3 separate regions of the Homo sapiens genome follow, and regions 1 and 2 are each linked to region 3. The links come from fine-mapping of genetic effects on gene expression. A gene starts in region 3. Each other region holds a variant in brackets. All regions are shown on one strand. Distances are from middle to middle.

Region 1 (4,066 bases), 20 kb after region 3:
TCTCAAAAAAAAAAAAAAGAGAAACATAGCAGGCCTTTTTTACCAGGCTTTTTGTGTTTTGTTTGTTTGTTTGGAGCATGTTAAGATTTTTTTAAGATTTTTAAAATTTTAGTTATATCCACCCTATTTCAGGTTATTTTTGTTGGTGTCAAGTATGTATAGGACATGTGAATGGTTCTTTTTAATTTTTTTTTAAGAGGAAATTTGGAAGATAAACTCCTTGATATATATATATATATATATATTTTTTTTTTTCTTTAGCAGCTTGTTATCACTGGAATCAAAGGGAAAAAGTGATCTCTTCTTGCATTGGTTGTATTTGTATGTCACAAATAAAAGACACTTTGGTCAGCTGCTGAGATGGCTTCCTGATGCTGGGGCACCATGGGCAGCGTGGATCTGGGAAGCTCTGGACCCTGAGCCTGTCCCAACATTGGGCCCGAACATCAGGAGGTGCATAGCTATGATAGCCCCATGCTGGAGAAAAAACTCAGGCTGTCCGGGGCAAGCAGCCAGAGCTGGGAACAGAGACCAAATGTATGTGTTTGTGCCACTTCCCAGGAGTTCTGAGTAGAGGCCAAAGGTGTTCTGAAGGGCGCCTGCTTTGCATCTTGGAGAGAAAGTCCCAAGCCAGGCCTTGTGACATTTGAAATCTGTGTCCAAACGTAAATTCCAGTGCCCATGTGTGGGAGGTGAATAGACGAGAGTGCTTCTTTCCTCTTTGACTTCATTGGGTTACTCAAAATATTCTTTGTCTCTTAAGATTCCTGCCCTCTTCCATCCATTCACAGAAGACAAGGCTCCAAGGAAGGGGAGCTCATGTCAGGGCTGCTGGGGCAGGAGAGTTATGAGCTGGTGGAGGCTGTGACCCCCTAGTGTGACAGATGGAGCTGTGCAGGTTGTTCCCCAAGCAGGGCTCCTGCCAGCCCTGGCCCGGGGGAGCTGGAGCTCAGTACTTTCTGTGGACAGTGGAGGGGCTGCCCCATTGTACTCTGCTTGGTGGTCTGCATCTGCTGGAACGGGGAGCAGGAGACCCTGATCCACATGGAGTGTTCGTGCCCTGGCAGAGCAAGCATCTGGGGAAAGAGGAGCCAGGGTTATACCTGTTCCGTGGGTCCCAGCTGTGGCATGTTGTGGCCTCTCCCCTGTGGGCAGGGGCACACCCGCAGGTGGTTTGTGCAGCTGTCTTATCTTTGAGGCCCAAAGAAAGGCAGCACAGCCCTTGGGAAGGGAGAGCAATTTGCCTGGCGAATCACATGGCCAGTTTCCCATGTGACAGAATTCTGCCCCTCAAGTTATTTGTTCCTTGAAGGCTGTGTTTTCATCCCAGGCAGAAACTTCCTGGAATGGCCATCCCCTTGCTGAAGGGTGAATGGCCACAGTTGGAGAGCTTGGGGCCATTCCTTCATCCCTGCCGGCTGAGTGCAGGGAGAGTTGAGGTCTGCACCCATTCCTCCTCCTTCTCCACCTTCACAATGGCCTGGGCCCTCCACAGTGGCTGCTTCAGTGAGGTGTGGTGTGACTTCTGGGTCTGCCCCATGCTGCTGCCACAGCTTCAGTGGGCAGGCGGAGCAAGAGGCACCACCGCTGAGCAGTAGACAGTCCAGAGCCTGGGCTGGACTGAAAGGGACTATGTCCCCAGCGGGAGGGACGCCACTCACCAGATGGTTTCTGCCGCCAGCTTTGAAGGTAGTTCAAACTAGGGGGCAGGCTTTTCTAGTTTTGGCTAGAATACTCCCTCCCCAAGTGCAGCAGAGGTTGTTCTATACCCCTGAGGACAGACGGGGTCTGGGGAGAGGGGATGTGTTGCTGTGGAGCCTGGTGAACTAATGTGGTGGTGTTACTCCCAATCTAAGGATAAATTGCCAGCGCCATGGCTCACGCCTAGAGCCCCAGCACTTTGGGAAGCTGAGGTGGGAGGATTGCTTTAGGCCAGGAGTTTGAGACCAGGCTGGGCAACATAGTGAGACCCTGTCTCTAAAAAAATATATTTTTTGATTAGTTGGGCCTGGTGGCAGGCACCTATAATCCCAGCTACTTGAGAGTCTGAGGCGGGAGGATTGCCTGAGCCTAGGAGTCTGAGGCTGCAGTGAGCTATGATTGTGCCACTGCACTCCAGCCTGAGTGACAGAGCAAACAAGACCCTGTTCTTAAAAAAAAAAAAAAAA[A/T]TTGCAGTCATTGTGTCTTACGCCTGTAATCTCAGCACTTTGGGAGGCCTAGGCAGGCAGATCACTTGAGGCCAGAAGTTCGAGACCAACCTGGGCAACATGGTGAAGCCCTGTCTCTACTAAAAATAAAAAAATTAGGCTGGGCGCGGTGGCTCACTCCTGTAATCCCAGCACTTTGGGAGGCCGAGGCGGGTGGATCACGAGGTCAGGAGATCGAGACCATCCTGGCCAACAGGGTGAAATCCCGTCTTTACTAAAAACATAAAAATTAGCTGGGCTTGGTGGCGCATGCCTGTGTTCCCAGCTACTTGGGAGGCTGAGACAGGAGAATCGCTTGAACCTGGGAGGCGGAGGTTGCAGTGAGCCGAGATCACGCCATTGTGCTCCAGCCTGGTGACAGTGAGACTCCGTCTCAAAAAATTAGGTTGGACACAGTGGCTCACACCTGTTATCCCAGCCCTTTGGGAGGCTGAGGCAGGCAGATCACGAGGTGAAGCGATCGAGACCATCCTGGCCAACATGGTGAACCCGTCTCTACTAAAAATACAAAAATTAGCCAGGCGTGGTGGCACGTGGTGGAGAATCGCTTGAACCCGGGAGGCGGAGGTTGCAGTGAGCCAAGATTGTGCCAGATACTCCAGCCTGGGCGAAGAAGCGAGACTCCATCTCAAAAAAAGAAAAAAAAATTAGCTTAGTATGGTGATGTGTGCTTGTAATCGCAGCTACTTGGAAAGCAGAGGCTGCAGTGAGCCGAGATTGCCCCACCGCACTCCAGCCTGGGCGACAAAGCAAGACTCTCTCAAAAAGATAAATGGAGAGTGAAAAGTAACTTGCTCATGGGCCCAGTAGTAAATGGCAGAGCCAAGATTTGAACACAGCGTAGGAGGTGTTATCCCCGTTTCACAGTTAGGTAACCTGCAGCTTGGGAAAGAAAAGACAGGAGCAAGCCAAGGACACCCACAGCTGTGTACCTGACTAGGTCCCTTCCCTCCCTATGCTGCCTTGCCCCACGGCGACTGTGAGAGGCCCAGCTTCTTCCTGAGCAGGAGCTATGGGCCCCAGAGGCCTCTCCTGCCCCACCTTGCTACTCCTGGTGCTGGGGACAAGGGTGGTGTCTCCTGCTTCTGGCCTGCAATGCCAGGGTATTATGCAGTGCTGCCCTGGACAGGATGTCGGTTTCTGTGATTCCATCTACGTTCCTGGATTCCTACTATGCTGAAGTGAGCAAAGAGAACCTTAGAACCTGTATTGGGGCTTTAGGAGTCTGCTGTGGGTTGTTTTCTTTGTTTGTTTGTTTTTTTGAGACAAGATCTCTGTCACCAGGCTGGAGTGCAGTGGCACAATCAGCTCACTGCAGCCTCAACCTCCTGGGCTCAGGTGATCCTCCCACTTCAGCCTCCTGAGTAGCTGAGACTGCAGGCATACGCCATCACACCCAGCTAATTTTTGTATTTTTAGTAGAGAGAAGGTTTCACCATGTTAGCCAGGCTGGTCTCAAACTCCTGAGCTCAGGTGATCCACCCACCTCGGCCTCCCAAAGTGCTGGGATTACAGGCGTGAGCTCCCAAGCCTGGCCCTGCTGTGGAGTGTTAATTCTATTAAGGTGAACATTTAATAGTCCCTACGGACTGGCAGGGCTGGGGCTGAGGTCACATCATGTGGCGCTGGTGCTTAGTGCAGGCCACCCCAGTGCTGGAGGGAGGAGGCCCTGAGAAATGGGACCAGGCTGGGAGCCCCCTAAGGGGTGGAGGCTGTTTGACTCAGAGCAGGGCTTGGTAGGCCACAGCTGGGAGATCGGGAGCAGGGTGAGAGCCAGCTGTGGCTGATTTGGCTGTTGAAAGCCAGGCCCTGCACCTCTCTGGGGTCATGCTCTGATACAGGATGGCTCTGTTGCAGCA
Region 2 (4,063 bases), 41 kb before region 3:
AAAAAGCTGTGGGATGAAAAGGAGTAAGAAATATAAAGGAGGAAGTAGATTGGAATCCTGGGTTTCGCTGGTCAGAGAAGTGATTTGGGGCCTTTTTGTCTCATCCTCAGGTAGCTGTGAAGATCATTGACAAGACTCAACTGAACTCCTCCAGCCTCCAGAAAGTAAGCACATGGCACCTCCTGTCCCTTTTTTTTTTTTTTTTTTTTTTTTTTTTGAGTCAGAGCCTCACTCTTGTCGCCCAGGCTGGAGTGCAATGGTGTGATCTCGGCTCACTGCAACCTCCGCCTTTTGGTTTCAAGCGATTCTCCCGCCTCAGCCTCCCGAGTAGCTGGGATTATAGGCACCCGCCACCACACCTGGCTAAGTTTTGTATTTTTAGTAGAGATGGGGTTTCACCATGGTAGCCAGGCTGGTCTCGAACTCCTGACCTCAAGTGATCCGCTCGCCTCGGCCTCCCAAAGTGCTAGGATTATAGGCGTGAACCACTGCCCCCAGCCCACCTGTCCCTTTCTAAATCTCTCTTCTGGGGTCAATGATCTACTGACCCCATTTAGACCTTCTCTTGAATTCCTAGTTTAAATTTTCTGGCCATTTCGCTCACCGTCCCCCAACCATTCCCTCCCATGGCTCTGCTACCTTCGGGGCTTTGGTTGGATCATCTGTGGTGACTCCTCCTGAGTGGGCTTCCTGGCCATAGGCACTGGCTCTTGTGAAGTCTTTCTGTTCATTCCCAGCCACTTGGCCTACCTGTCTGACCTACTTCCTGCATCTTGTTATCTTCTGGCTTGTGGCCAGCCCTATGCAAAAACACATGTTTGTAGCCACTACTAGAAACACGTGCAGCTACTTCAAGATCTGGAATGATACAGGGGAGTGGCTTTAGAAATACAAGAATAAGAGGAAGCAGGGAACCTGCCGGTGGGTTCTGTGCCAGCTACCTTTTAGAGAATGAGCTCCAGCTCAAATTTTCTGAACAAAACCTAGTTCTGTTCATCTTGTGGCAAATCAGATATTTTCTCCATAAGCATATTGTGGCAGTTGAGTTAGGAGAAGGCATGATTCGTGCTAACAGAGTCAGATAGTGATACTGGGAACCTTAGGAGTAAGGGCTGAGGATTGTTGTTGAGGGCGATGCTCATGGAATTAGAGTGGATGAGTTGTTCTCCGGACATGCAAATAGCCAGAACCAAGGTGTTTCCTATTTATTGTTACCCCTGGGATCCCTTCAAGGGTTCTTCAGTTCAGTAGAAACATTGTTGTCATCATCAGGGTGTCTCTGCTTGAAGCTTTCCAGGAGGAAGGGAAAAAGGGCTGCTTATGACATCCTGGCTCCAGCCCCACAGAAGAAGTCAGCGTGGGGTAGGCCATTTGGCCTTGGGAGCAGTCTAGCCTGCCATCGTAATAATCGCCAGTCCACCAAGCCATCTTATTCCTGACCTTGTTTTTCTCCCTAATTCTTCTTGGTTTTCTCCCTAATTCTTCCTGACTCTCTGGAAGGCACCAACACCAGACAAATAGAGCCATTTTCAAAACCTTTTGAGACTCTTTGTTACTAAAGCCAGTCTGATTCTGGCCAAAAATGTGATCTCAGCAATGATCCCTGAAAAATGAACATTGAAGAAGCTAGCCCCCTCAGGGGTCTAGACAAGCCCAGAAAACCCCAAGTTCTCCCAGAAGAATGTCACTTCCATGCCAGGTGAGCAGCCTCAGGGGAAGAAGCCCTGGCAGCTGCCTCTGGCCCTATTTCAGAGCTGCTCCCCATTACTGCCCCAGAGGGTGGTATCCAGGCTTTTTGCCTCTCCATCCAAAATATCTGTTGGACCAGGGAAAAAAGTAAGAAAAACCTAGGCCCTAATAAAGGGTAAGGTCAGCATTGGGTTCCTGAGGATTGGAAAGCCTTTTTCTTCTTTTCCTTTCTAGCTTAGGAAAGCTCTGGG[G/T]CATCATTAAAGGGGAAACAAATGTATTCACTTTATTCCATAAACCATATCTTGAATTAGGGCTTCCCCTACCCCCAACAAAAACAACAACAAAAACTAGTTCTGTTCTTTGTGCAAGTGATGAGGCCTGAAATTACAAAAAGCCCCACCTCCAGTTCTCTGGCCCCCGCAGAGGGGAAGGAGTTCATTTCTGTCATCTTTCTTTATGGAAATACATGGTTTGGAGCCCCTGGTTTTGTTTCACAAAGAGAGCGTGAGTGTGTGGAGGTGGATTTGATTAAAATTGGCATCAGCTATATATAGGAGTGGCTTCTTCTGTCACCACCCTAGAGGCCCAGGAAGGAAAGGCCTATCCCCTAGAACAGAGCCCTCTGACTACTGTAAATCAGAAAATGATGGGGTCCCCCTCTGGTGCTCTACCACCCCTTTACACAGACCAAGCTGGGGTGTGTACTGTCACTGAACCAAGGCAGCAGCTCGGATTCTGAATATTCACGCACACGGGCTCACACTCCCTCCAGTAGAGGCACCCAGCCAAAACCTGCCTGCTGTTTTGGGGCTGGATTTGGTAGACGCAGCAGAGGGCATGGCTGGCTCATCCTGATGCCATCCCGGGTAGCACGTCCCCACAGCCAGCCCTCCTCCAGCTTCCCCAACTTCCCAGCCACAGGGAAGGCCGTGCATGAGCTAGACAACCACCCTATTTTCTTTTCCCTGCCCGGTTTTGGTTTTTTGGGAAAAACAAATCCTGGCAGGGACTGTTTGGAGAGACCTGATGGGAGCAAGTTGGGCAGGCATGACCCCTGGTATTTTATCTTCCAGCTATTCCGCGAAGTAAGAATAATGAAGGTTTTGAATCATCCCAACATAGGTGAGCACAAGTTGTTATTTCTTTCTTCTTCCCCAACAGCAAGGCACTGCTTTCCAGCATGTCATCTTCTCCCCGAGGTGCACTGCCTTCTGGAGTCTGCAGTCTTCAAGGATACCCCTGGGGAAGCTCAGCTCAAAATCCATCTCCCCTTCTGGCACACTGGGCTGTCTTTAGCAGTTTGGCTGGCATGAGAGGAACTTGTTCTTGGGAGTGGGGGATCATGAAAGGAGGGGAGACTTTCGTTCCTAGGATGCTCCTGGACATGTTGGAGAGCAGTATGTGGCCCCTGTTGCTTCTTGACTTAAGGCTTGGCCTTTTCTCTTGTAGTTAAATTATTTGAAGTGATTGAGACTGAGAAAACGCTCTACCTTGTCATGGAGTACGCTAGTGGCGGTAGGTGTGGAACTGCCTCTTCCTGTTGTGCCCCCACTTCTTCCACCTCCAGCCAGCTCTGACTGAGATCCCTGCCTGGTCTCTTACAGGAGAGGTATTTGATTACCTAGTGGCTCATGGCAGGATGAAAGAAAAAGAGGCTCGAGCCAAATTCCGCCAGGTAGGTGTGACTCCCTCCATAGGAGCTAGGCCTGACCTCTGCTTTTGGGGTTTGACATGTAAGGATAAGCTGCCTGTCTGTAAGTGGCCCTTGGAGGGTACTTTGGGCTCTGCTTATCCGTGTGGCAGGTTAGCACTAAGTCACAGGGTCACTGCTCTGTCAGCCCCTGTGGCCCACCCTCAGGCACCCCTGGGTTAACCCTTCTTCCTTCCTTTCAGATAGTGTCTGCTGTGCAGTACTGTCACCAGAAGTTTATTGTCCATAGAGACTTAAAGGTAAGGCATGCACTTCTCCTTGTGCCTTTGAGTGGGAGCCAGGTTGTTGCCTCTTGGTTCTCCATGATAAAACCATCAATAACCATCAGGCCCTGAGTGTTCCAGGAAACTCCAGCCTTTCTTTTTTTCTTTCTTTCTTTCTTTTTTTTTTTTTGAGATGACCAGAAAGCCCCTAGGGCTGCCTCTGATAGAGGCCTTGTGGCTGGACCTCGGGTTCCATTCTAGCCCTTGAGCAGGGGCCCTCTGCCATTTCACCTCTTGGCACATCACCTTTTAGTGCTGCCAAGCAAGGCAGGCACACTCCAGGCTTTCTCAGTCTTTCAGGCAACCTGGTAGCTGACCCAGGGAAGAGTGCTGAAAGTTCCACAGCTGTATCCCAGCTGCTTTGCAGGCAGGCACACACATACCATCTCCATCACCAAGA
Region 3 (4,066 bases):
CCAGGCTGGAGTTCAGTGGCGCTATCGGCTCACTGCAACCTTCACCTCCCGGGCTCAAGCAATCCTCTAACCTCAGCCTCCAGAGTAGCTGGGACCACAAGTACACGCCACCACGCCTGGCTAATTTTTTTTTATTTTTAAATTTTTTTGCAGAGACAGGATCTTACTCTGTTGCCCAGGCTGGTCTCAAAGTCGTGAGCTCAAGCAGTCCGCCCATCTCAGCCTCCTAAAGTGTTGGGATTACAGGTGTGAGGCACTGCGCCAGGCCACAACTATAAATCTTGACCTTCCCTGTGCTCTCTCCCTGCTTTTTCTTCCTTCTAGAGCCTGTATCATTTTTTTTTTTTTTTGAGACTCTCTCTGTCGCCCAGGCTGGAGTGCAGTGGCACAATCTCGGCTCACTGCAAGCTCCGCCTCCCGGGTTCACGCCATTCTCCTGCCTCAGCCTCCCGAGTAGCTGGGACTACAGGTGCCCGCCACCCTGCCCGGCTAATTTTTTGTATTTTTTTAGTAGAGACGGGGTTTCGCTGTGTTAGCCAGGATGGTCTCGATCTCCTGACCTCGTGATCCGCCCGCCTCTACCTCCCAAAGTGCTGGGATTACAGGCGTGAGCCACCGCGCCCGGCCGAGCCTGTATCATTTAACTAACTATGTATATTACCTATTTATTTCATCTATTATCGGTCTCCTCCTTCTAGGATACAAGGGTGGTGCCTATTCTGTTTCTTATTGTTGTTTTCCTTGCTGCTTGGAACAGTGCCTAGCATACAGTAGGCACTGGATAAATGTTGTTGAGGCCACCACTGTACTGAGCACTAAAGTTGGAATAATGAGGCTAAGCACAGTGGCTGACGCCTGTAATCCTAGCACTTTGGGAGGCCAAAGTGGGAGGATCGCTTGGGCCCAGGAGTTTGGGACCAGTCTGTGTAACACAGTGAGACCCCATCTCAACAAAAAATAAATAAAAATTGAGCTGCGTATGGTAGTGCACACCTGTAGTCCCAGCTACTCAGGAGGCTGAGGCGGGAGGATCGCTTGAGCCCAGGAGGTCGAGGCTGCAGTGAGCTGTGATTGCACCACTGCACTCCAGCCTGGGCGACCGCGAGACCCTGTCTCTTAAAAAAACAAAAAGATGGAATAATGAGCAAAACCTGAAAAAGTCCATGAAGCTTAAGTGTTGGGCAGCATTTCACTAATTTTCGTCTTGAAGCATTTCACTAATTTTCGCTCCCTACCTGGGGAGCACTAGGAAGTGAAGACTCTGGCTCCACCCCTGGAGATTCTGGGGGAGGTTGGCAGAGGTGTGCACACTGCGGAAGCGCCCCCGGCGGTTTGGATTCGGGTCACGTGCGGGTCACTCCGGTGTGCTGGGGATGGGTTGAAATTAAAACTTTCCGGGATGCCTGGTGTTCACGCTAACAGCACTGTCCACTCTCTCCTAAACAGTGCTTACGTGCCCGTCTCCCCTCTAAACCCTGAGGTGTGGCGCTGAGATGGCACCTCGCTCCTCTCTGTGCCCCCTGGGCTCAGCACCGCGTAGATGCGAGTTAATTTTTATTGAGAACGTGAATGAATGAGGGGGAATGAATGGTTAGAAGACGAATGAATGAGTAACAGGACTCTGGTTAGAAAAGGAATTTCAAGAGTCAAGATCTGGAAGGTGGGAAAGTTTCCAAAGACTTCCGCTACGCGCGCTAGGGCTCTGGAGGGGCAGGTACTTTAGAGGTCGAGACGCGATTGGCCGCCTGGGAAGGTGGCTGTGCCGCCGGCTGCTACGCGCGGGGCCAAGGAGTCGCTGGCCGCAGGGGAGGTGCTGCCAACCACCCGGCCCCCAGCGGCGCGCGACTCACGGCCTGGGTGAGCAGCCAGGCCTGGCGCCGCCGTTGCCATAGTTACAGACGCAGCCCTGCGAGGGGGCGGGCTCTGGCCGCACGTCATTCCCGGCGCGACGCTCCTCCGCGCTCCCGCCTCCTCCTGGTCGGAGACCCTCGGCCAGCCTAGCGGGCGCTCCACCTGCGCGCCGGCTCACCGCTGCCCTGCGCCGGTTCTGCGCCGGCGCGGTACGAGGGCGCGCGGTTGGGCGGGGGGGGGGGGGGAAGCTGCGAGGCGCATGCGCGTTGCAGGGCCGTCCGCTCTGCTGCCGCCGCTGTTGCAGCCACCGCCGTTGCCGCCTCCCTGCCGGCAAGTGTGTGAAGAAGAAGCTGAGCGTTGTCGCCGCCGCTATGGGGGTGAGTGAGGCAGAGAGAGGAGATGGGAGGTCCAGGGGCGCTCCTCGCTACCCTCGCCCCCTTTGTTCTTAAACCCCCCTCTCACGTGACCCCGACCCCCTCCAGCCTCACGTGACCCCTGACCCCCACATGACCCGACTCCCCCATTCTAAGGGTCCCTACGCTAGGCCTAGCCCGGGAATCCTCTGGAGAGCCCCTGGTCCGGGGCCCCACCCCCTCGGCGCCCCCAGCGTCACGCCCGCCCCTTCCTGCTTCGCGGACCCGTTACTGGCCTCCCCACCACCGTCCCCCGCGGGGACCCTGGGGTTAGCTTCCCGCTCCCCCAGGGTCACTCATCACCTGGCTGTCACCAGCTTCGTCGCTTTTCACATCCGAGGTCAACCCTGGCTTGGAGGGAATTGAGGCCCAGAGGAAAGAAGGCGCCTAGCCAAGGTCATATTGTCGGGGGCGTCAGACCCCACCTTGGGCCTCCCGAATCCCAGTCCACTGCCCTTCCCGTTACTCGAGTCTCAGCGAAGCCGGTTCCCCTACACTCTTTCGAAACCTCTCCACCAGGTTCCTGCTGCTCCTGATAAACACAGCCTTCCTTTCCCATAGACTCCTGCCTTCGACGCCTCCTGGTTGCAATGAAATGGTTCTTACGACCGCTTGGGTTGTTAGGGGTTTTGGTAGTGCAGGTGTTTTTTGCAAGGGGAGGGCTGTGCAGGTGTGCGGGGAAGATGCGGGGAGGCGGGGGCGGCGGCCCAGCCGCGGATGGATATTGACCACTTGTTCCGTGCCGGCAGCCTGGAGGTGCATTTTAGTTTACTTTCCCGGGATATAGGGTAGGGCAGAAGTTATTTGCAAGTTTCTGTGCGTTCACCTTACTAAGTCTCAATTACAGCAGTATCAGTCACCCTCCTAAAAAGATAACGCTTTTCCTAGTATTGGCTGTATTCTTTTTTTTTTTTTTTTTTTTTTTTTTTGATATGGAGTTTTGCTCTTGTCGCCGAAGCTGGAGTGCAATGGCGCGATCTCGGCTCACTGCATCCTCCTTCTTCTGGGTTCAAGCGGTTCTCCTGCCTCAGCCTCCCCAGCAGCTGGGATTACAGGCGCCCGCTACTATGCCCGGCTCATTTTTGTATTTTTAGTAGAGACAGGGTTTCACCACGTTGGCCAGGCTGGTCTCGAACTCCTGACCTCGTGATTCACCCGCCTAGGCCTCCCAAAGTGCTGGGATTACAGGCGTGAGCCACCACACAGGCCTATATTAGTATTTACATGGAATTTCCATCACCTTAAGGGAACCCTGACTTTGGAGCCCGAGGTACCTCACTTCCAGCCCCGTCTTCGCTGCTGGTGGTATAATAGTGTGCCAGTGAGTTGGCCTTTATGTGTTTGAATTTCCTCACCTCTGTAATTGGGATGCTAATACCTCCCCCTTAGGGTAGTAGTGAAGATTAAGTGAGATAATGGATGTAGATTGCTAAGGAGGTGTCTCCTAAGTAGTGGCTGTTATTTTTGTCTGTATCCTCAGCCTTAACTTTACTGATCTAAAATGGATTTGTGCTATTTTTAACCCATTGGGTTTGTCCCTACTGTTGTTAACCTAGTTTTTTTTTTTCCCGTCACTCCACTATTTATCGACTGAACAAATCAACTTATTAGACAAAAATAGTTGTCTAATCCGTGTCAAAACAGTCATCGTGTTTTAACAAATAGTTTTGGGTATTACGTACTTCATATGTAGAAAACCAAGTCTAGAGACCTTAGGCATATTTAACCTAAATTTTGGTGAAAGGTCCTAGACACAGCCATTGTTGAAACTAAATGAAACCTGTGTCCCTTAGTAACTGTCT

Evidence for each region. PIP is the estimated chance that this variant, and not a neighbour inherited with it, causes the effect.
Region 1: its variant is the best candidate, but not a certain one, in a credible set for the expression of NAA40 in whole blood (TOPMed, PIP 0.60).
Region 2: its variant is the best candidate, but not a certain one, in a credible set for the expression of NAA40 in whole blood (TOPMed, PIP 0.79).

Annotation. Positions count from the first base shown.
Region 1 is chr11:63,956,969-63,961,034 of GRCh38, forward strand. It overlaps NAA40 (N-alpha-acetyltransferase 40, NatD catalytic subunit), which reads left to right. Exons shown (of 8, transcript NM_024771.4): 8 at 1-351. Among named protein-coding and RNA genes, the nearest start is that of COX8A, 16 kb to the right of the region's middle. The variant A/T (reference allele first, on the strand shown) is at 2,169.
Region 2 is chr11:63,895,470-63,899,532 of GRCh38, forward strand. It overlaps MARK2 (microtubule affinity regulating kinase 2), which reads left to right. Exons shown (of 19, transcript NM_001039469.3): 3 at 111-164; 4 at 2,763-2,811; 5 at 3,139-3,204; 6 at 3,294-3,364; 7 at 3,583-3,639. Among named protein-coding and RNA genes, the nearest start is that of RCOR2, 20 kb to the right of the region's middle. The variant G/T (reference allele first, on the strand shown) is at 1,941.
Region 3 is chr11:63,936,875-63,940,940 of GRCh38, forward strand. It overlaps NAA40 (N-alpha-acetyltransferase 40, NatD catalytic subunit), which reads left to right and starts at 2,128. Exons shown (of 8, transcript NM_024771.4): 1 at 2,128-2,228. The coding sequence starts at 2,223. RefSeq lists enhancers at 1,131-1,631, 1,870-2,009 and silencers at 1,730-1,779, 2,040-2,119, 2,049-2,234.